Linked DNA regions of Homo sapiens. The protein of the gene in region 2 purifies or fractionates together with the protein of the main gene of each other region. This does not show direct contact. Each region holds a gene or a part of one and is shown on either strand. Other genes may lie near its edges. The genes, in order: TM9SF3 and CACFD1.

What was found.
Region 1: the proteins of CACFD1 (region 2) and TM9SF3 purify together in Homo sapiens (affinity purification with mass spectrometry; one large-scale study listed by BioGRID and IntAct). This does not show direct contact.

The regions. Positions count from the first base shown.
Region 1 is NC_000010.11:96,531,429-96,535,244, forward strand, and holds part of TM9SF3 (transmembrane 9 superfamily member 3 precursor), read right to left. Parts: intron 1,763-3,816; coding exon 1,623-1,762; intron 1-1,622.
Region 2 is NC_000009.12:133,466,419-133,470,234, reverse strand, and holds part of CACFD1 (calcium channel flower homolog), read right to left. Parts: exon of another isoform or gene 2,315-3,816; coding exon 2,207-2,314; exon of another isoform or gene 1,993-2,206; intron 1,896-1,992; coding exon of another isoform or gene 1,771-1,895; intron 1,764-1,770; exon of another isoform or gene 1,673-1,763; coding exon 1,582-1,672; coding exon of another isoform or gene 1,524-1,581; 3' UTR 1-1,523. UniProt on the Homo sapiens protein: Transmembrane protein which mediates synaptic endocytosis and fitness-based cell culling.

The DNA.
Region 1 (3,816 bases), on a different chromosome or scaffold from region 2:
GCAGAAGCTATTCATCTAGGTATTTCCAGTGCCTAGCACAATACCTGGCACAAAAAAGATCCTAAACTAATAACTATGAAATTAACAAACTAAAAAACTGAGAAGAAAATGGTAAAATTTGAGAGCTGAAAAAAAAACTTAAAAATCATTTAATGTAGTCTTCTTTCCTTACTTTACAGGAAGCCAAGACACAGAGGTTAAAAGTGATCTGCCCAAGGTGACACAGTCAATGAGAGGCAGATCTAGTATTCAGATTTAGGTTCCCAGGATTATACTCCCCAAAACAGAGGCACACACAAGCCTTCCTATACCTAATTGCAATGCATCTCTGGTGAGGAAGCTCTCACCAGACCTCTCCTTCACTGGCCCTAGTGACTTAGAGGAACTTTTGTGACTTCTGACTATGCTTTTCCTTTAAACTTACCCTTCCCAGTAAGGATATTGATGGGTCCTAACATACTGATTTACAAAAAAAAAATTACTTTAAAAAATAAACTACAGGCTGGGCGTGGTGGCTTACGCCTGTAATCCCAGCACTTTGGGAGACCGAGGTGGGCAGATCACGAGGTTAGTAGATCGAGACCATCCTGGCTAACACGGTGAAACCCCATCTCTACTAAAAATACAAAAAATTAGCCAGGCGTGGTGGCGGGCACCTGTAGTCCCAGTTACTCGGGAGGCTGAGGCGGAAGAATGGCATGAATCCAGGAAGTGGAGCTTGCAGTGAGCCGAGATCACACCACTGCACTCCAGCCTGGGCCACAGAGTGAGACCTCATCTCAAAAATAATAATAATAATAAAATAAATAAATAAATAAAATAATAAACTACAAAAGTTCTAACTAAAGTCTCTCATAAGCACCAATCTAAGGAAAGAAAAGAATATGGCCAATTCAAACTATAGGGGCTATTTTATTCATCCTCCATTTCTATAAATGTCTACATGCCTCCATGTCTAGAAGGGACAGAGCAAAATTATCACCTATTTGTATAAGCACCTGAATATGCTGTATTTATAATCTGGTAAAATATCTAGGGACAGAGACTTTATATATATATATCTCCGTTATCATAAAAATGCAGTCTACTTACTATACAACTATTCCTATAAATAGGGAATGTAATAAATGTACACTAAATTGTACAGTACTAAAATATCTGGAAAGATAGTAAATATTTCAGGTTCTGCATGTGATAGTATCTCTGACATTACTGATCTGCCAGCTCTGATGCTGTACTATAAAAGCAGCCACAGAGAATATGTAAACAAATGGGCATGGCTGAGTTCCAACAAAACTTTATAGATAAAAACAGGGAGCAGGCCAGATTTGGCCTGCAGATTAGTAAAACTGCAGCTTTAGTTCACACCCACTTCTACACCATAGAAAAGCATTTGACTTAACTCTAAATGGCACGATATTCAGAAAGTGGAATAAGGGTATAATTTATTATTACTCTTAACAATGTAGGTTAAAGGAAATAGTAAAATGAACTTCTTAGGCTCAAACTTAAGATTGTCATTATCATAAATACATACCAATTCTAAAGTTACATGTACACAACAGCCTTAAGAACTTATATATTGTGTGAAACAATCGCATAAGATTTAGCATTCTCTTTACCATTTTTTCTCCGGTATAGGACGAGGCACAGCATTGACACGACAAGGAAAGTTGGGCTGACCTGACAGATTTCGGCCAAGTATTGTACCAACAAGATTTAGAGGAAGAATAACAAAAAAACAGATGCAACAAACGGCCACCTGTAAATTAAATAAAAATGTGTGATTACTCAGAGAACAATAACATTAATATAAACAAATAAAAGAGACACAATTTAAACACAATTTGACCACAAAAGAAAATGTTTAAGTTCAATATGAGCTAAAATTGTGCAAGAAGTACACTAATGAAAACAAAAAGGTGTGCTTTAAAGTATTAGAACTAAACTGAATACAAGTTGAACTAGTTCTTATCCAATTTGGTTTTCCATTCTTTCCTATTCTTCCAGACTATCTCTGCCACAATCCCTTTTTCTCCTCTTTCACTCTCAGCTGTCATGCTTTTTTAATATATTTATCCATTGTCTTTCATTATTATAACCAACTTACTTATCTGGCTATGCTTTTTGAGCTCATAAAATGCACTAAGAGCTTTATATGTGTTATTTTCTTATTTTGCAAATGAAGGAAAGGAGACTCAGAGAAGGATAAGTAACTTCCCATAATTGCATAGCTAGTGGAGAGCCAGACCAAAATTTCAACTCAGATCTGCCAGCCTCAAAGCCCACACTCTTTTCTATCCTACACTACCTTGGAATCCTAATAGAAGGAGATCGCTATCTATGTGTCACTAGTAAAATAGTACAAATATTTTCCTGCCCATTAGTAGTGCAAAGTCTAAAATTACAGAGAAGACCATACGGAGATTTTAGAACCAAAGTGGCCAATTAGAAACATTTATTTTTGTGACTTTTTTTCTTTATAAAATCAGCTCTTTTCCGGCCAACCATCTAATTAAGATCATTTCACTCTGAACTTCTGTAAAATGGAGTAGAATTGAATCACCTCTAAGATGTCTTTAAATTATACACTTTAGGTTATAATAAATAGAAAGTAAAAGTGAGAGAAAAACTGAATGAAACATGTGAAGACACTGATTGAGAGAAATGAAGAGGTATGGGGTAGGAAATCCACAGTGATTGCACAAGAAGGAAAGATCTCTTTGAACCAATATTAGTAAAAATTCTTCATTAGATCCTTTTGTGTGTGTATATGTGTTTTTAAACAAGCCAAAGGGTACTGTCATCTCCTTTTCAGATCAAATATAAATATGTGAGAATTACAGAGCTCCATAATACCATTTTAAACATCAGACTCAGGAACTCAATTTATCTGCGTTTCAGTTTAGGCCTAGGCCTATGAATAATATGAATTTATGCTCATATTAAAATACGTGAAATGTGAAAAATAAGCAGGTGTTTTTAAGATAGTTTAAGCATTATGTTATGAACTATACATATGTCGTAAATATGGGGAGTGATAAATTCCATCTCAATTTTTGCTTTTACTTTCTTAATAACTACAAGACTCATAAACCTTAACACATTGTAATAAAGACCTATATATTTTTCCCTTAGTTTACCAGAACTCTAATTTCAAATAAGAATTACAGAGAAAATGAAGAAAACATTCCTATGTTGAATTACATGGTCTAGAAGAATGGTTTTCAAACTGTTCCAAAGAACTCTCAGGTCCTACTGAAGAGCTTCTGGGATTCCACAAGCATTTGATTTGAGTATCCTTTTGAAAATAGTTTCTTTTTAAAACACTTTCAACTGTAATAAGATATATATAGCTCAAAGGAGTTCTATACCAAATATCAGTATACTGGAGATATCACAGCCAGGTTAACTCATTTTCATGCAAATCTCAGAATAAAGTTTCTCCTGCTTATCTCTGTGTATATACTGAACTGAATGAATTTTGTCATTGATTAGGAAGGCTTGTAATGCTATATTGGTCTTTTATTCTATCTCCTTCACCTCATCCCAATTAAGGCCTGCACATATTTGTTCACTAAAAATTGTATAAGCAAAAGTACTACTACAGCACAATGTGTGTGACAGGCAATTGAGTGGCAGCTGAAGTGAGGGCACATCTTGCCTTCTGTGCACATAACAGTCAATAAAGGAATCTACAGTCTCAAAAAGACATTATCAATTGCTTAGCATTTGTCAATATTTTCCCTTTTGTTGTCCAACTTTTTAATATATGATAAAAAATGTGAGCAGTTTGTTAGAAATAGTGATTAAGCT
Region 2 (3,816 bases):
ATATACATACACACACACACACACACACACACACACACACACACAGCCCTTTGAACCCAGCACTGGCCTGAGGAAGGTGGCCCCGGAGGAACCCTGAAGGCACATGTCCACCAGGCTATAATGCCCCTGCCACCCTGGGGCTCAGCTGGCCAGACTCCCAGGGGTGGGATGCTGCTGACCCAGGAGCCCACCAAGTCCCCAGGGCAGTACTGGGCAGGGCCCAGAAAACCCCACGCCCAGCCCACCAGCCTGCCACTCCTGGCCTCAGATGCCACTCCCGGCCTCAGATGCCACTCCCAGCCTCAGACGCAGATGGGCCCGAGAGGTGTTCCTGGGAAACAGTTCACTTAGCAAGACCCAGTACCTGCGCTCCAGAAGCTCAGCGCAGGCCCAGCCTGGGGTTGGCCCCAGATGGAATATCTTCCACACCCGCCCGCTTCTGCCAAACCCCACCTGGGCTAAGCCAGGCCCGACCAGGCACCTGCCCGATGGCTGAGAGCCAGCCTCACGGTCAGAGAGGCCAGCGGGCTGAGGCCACAGGGCAGAGGGAATATGGGGGTGCACATCCTGGGCACCAGCTCTCTGCATCCTCCCTGGGTAGGCCTGGCTCCGGACAGCCTGGCACCCAGGGCAGTGGGGACAGCTCTGTGTGGGGAGGTGACTGTGGCCTCTGCCCAGTTCTTAAAAGGCAGAAGCTCCCTGAGGGCAGGGCTTGGGCAGGCCAGCAGGAGCACCTGAGTGGGGCTGAGGTCAGACCCACTAACCCACTAATGGGGCTGGGCTGTGGCTGATGTTGACGGGGCCACACCAGGGAGAGGGTGGGCACCCTCGGTGCCAGGGAGAGCCTGCTCTCCCCACTTCCTTAGCACCAAGGCCAGCAGGGGCGGGGGGTGATGGGCAGAACCTAGGGGCCCCAGCAGGCCCAGGGAGGAGGGGCAGCCGAGGGGCCTTGAGGTGGCCTGTCCAAGGTTCCCAGGGCCAGCAGGGAGCATCCCCCACCCAGCTGTCCAGTCACTGCCAAGGCTGCAGTTCCAGGTACCGGGGTGCACCTTAGGAGCCCTGTGGGCTTCTTCAGAAGGCAGGGTGACAGTGGGCGCTGCACCCTAGGCAGCAGTGGGAGGTTGCTGGCAGCGGCAGGCTGTCCCAGGCCCTGGGGCTCCACCTGCTAAGAGAGCTGGGGGAGGTCCCTCTGCTCAGTGCCCAGGTGGCAGGGTCCCACTTGCCCCTCCCCTCAAGCCAGGACCAGCATCTCCAGGGGAAGCTGCTCCCAGGTCACAGCAGGTCACAGGCAGCCCTGTCTGTGGTGTGAGATCTGCAGACCCACCCAGCAGAGGAGTAGGGCTGGGTAGTGTCCACACAGCTGCTGCAGGCTCTGCCTCAAGTCCAGCAGCCCAGACCCTCACACCAGCAGCCAGTGGCTCCTGGCTTAAGCCAGTCTGGAGAAAGGAGCAGAGGACTCCAGGTGTAGGGACACGTGCAAAGGCCCCTCTCCAGGCTGTGCCTCAGCGTGGACAGTCCAGGCCTCACTTGGACCCACACAGAGCCAGAAGAGGGGACAGGGAGGGAGGGGCGCCCAGCCCTTCACAGCTCCCCCTCCAGGGTCTCCGCGAGCTTCTCCTCATCCGCCTGCTGCCTCTGCTGCTGGATCCTGGCATAGGAGATCGCATCGCCCCTGGGGAGAGAGAGAGGCAGCGTCACGTGGAGCACCAGCCCCATGCCCACAGCCCTCCTGACCACTGCCCGGTTCCTGCCCTGTGACCCAGGTGTGACCTGCAGGCATTCTGATTTCCCCAGAGACAACTGCTGGGGTGGCAAAGGCCTGTCTTGTCCCCTCTGAGAATGGCCCAGGCTCCCTGGGATGCTGGGCTGCGAAGGAACCAGCCTCAGTCTGGGCTCTGCAGGAGAGAGGGTGGCAACTGAGTACAATGCCCGGTGCAGACCTGGGAGGGGAAGGGGCTCCCACCAGCCATGTTTTTGCTATCCTTGCTGCAGGCCGTGACGGGGCAAGACTGGGCCACGCAGAAGTGTTGTAAGTCCTCTGTCTTCACCCACTCGAGCTGAGCCCTGGAGGCACCAATGAGTTACTGGGACCTCTGCCTCGGTCTCCACTAGCTAAAAGGGGCCACTCTCAGATCCTCCTCACTGAAGGACTTCGGGGGGCGGAGGGAGGAAGGCCCTGCCCAGGGGCTGGGCCTGGCAGACGCACTTTTTGCCCAGAGCAGAGAGTCCGTACAGCACCCCCGTAGCAAAGGCGATGGCGTTGCCCAGCAGCGTGGTCAGGGTCAGGCTGATGACGATGGGAACGACCGCCATCCTGGGGGGAAAGCAGAGGTCAAGGGGGCACTCCGGCCCCACAGCCACCACATCCTTCCCCGCTTCCCAGACTCGGCCCAGCATCCTTCCTAGACACCCAGGGCACAGGAAGGATCCCCAAAAATCAACTGAGACACAGCTTCAGAAAGTCCTTCATCAGCCCTGAACTTGTCTGTAAAACTGTTCCATTCTGGGAATAGGATCCAAAGCTTTCATCAGATTTTTGAAGGGGTCTGTGATCCCAAAAAGAGCTAAACAGTAACGAGATGGTCCAGTGCCCTCACTGTGAGAAAAACTGGCCAGAAAGAGCCTGTGACAGAGAATCTGGCTTCCCATCCAGGACCTACTAGCTTCGCGGGCAAGTTACTCGGAATCTCCACCGCGGAGAGGGGATCAAAGCTTGTCCGAGGTCAGTCATGTTACCTACACAATGCTGACCACCACAGGCACTAAATAAATGCTCTGAGTTATAGAGTAACACCAGCCACATCGCCACAAGTAAGGTCCCTGGAATTCAACCACATGGAACACAGGGTCTCATCATGGGAGGGCTGCAGGCTGCGGGGTCTGCGGGGTCGGCCCAGACCTTGCTGCAGTTTGGCGTCACCTGGTGGCAGGGTCCACTGGGGCTTAAGCGTCCCCGGGGCTGATTCTCCATCCTGGCTGGAATTTCCAGGCCAGCAGCAATTCCTGGGCTAACTGGGCCAGGAGGATACCTGCAGCCTGGAGGCCAGCGCTCTGTCCTGTCGCCTCCCTAGAGGAGGCTGCCTGTGCAGGAGGACAAGACTCGTGGCCAATTGCATTCTACCTCAGTTTCCATTCTTGTAGACATGTGGTTGTGAGATTTTTCTGTCGTTAAAAAATTTCAAAATGATAAAATAATAATAGAAATTACAAAGAAAAAGACCACGGCGGGGAACCTTCTGACAAAAACAAAATTAAAGGCAAACAAGAGCCTGGAAAAATAGTTGCAGGAAATACAACCAAGGATCATGAAATCTTTAATACAGAAAACACACTGAACTTGCTAAGCAGAACACTGAGGTTCCCACAGGTTAAAAAGTAAACTCGAAAATTTTCATATCAGAAAATGCAATGGAAACACGTGGGAAAATATTTTTCCCTCTTAGATAACAAATAGATAAATGCGAATGTGAAGTGGTGTGCAGCCCTGGGCTGGGGTGGGGGCGGGGGAGAGACTCAAGGGACCTCTTTGGAAAGCAACGTAGCCACGCATCTTAAAATATTTTTAATGATCAGAATCTTTGACCCAGTAATTCCACACCTGAAAATAGATATTAAGGAAATCATCATAAACACAGAAAAAGTTTTAGCAGACACATGTTTATCACACCTCGATTTACACCAGTTAAGAAATTAAGAACAGCATGATACATCCAGCTGAATGAATATTCCTGTATTGAAAGAATGTTATAAAGTCTGTGGTGATGTTCAAATGCTTATATCATTACTCTAAGTGAAAAAAGGCAGGATACAAACTTA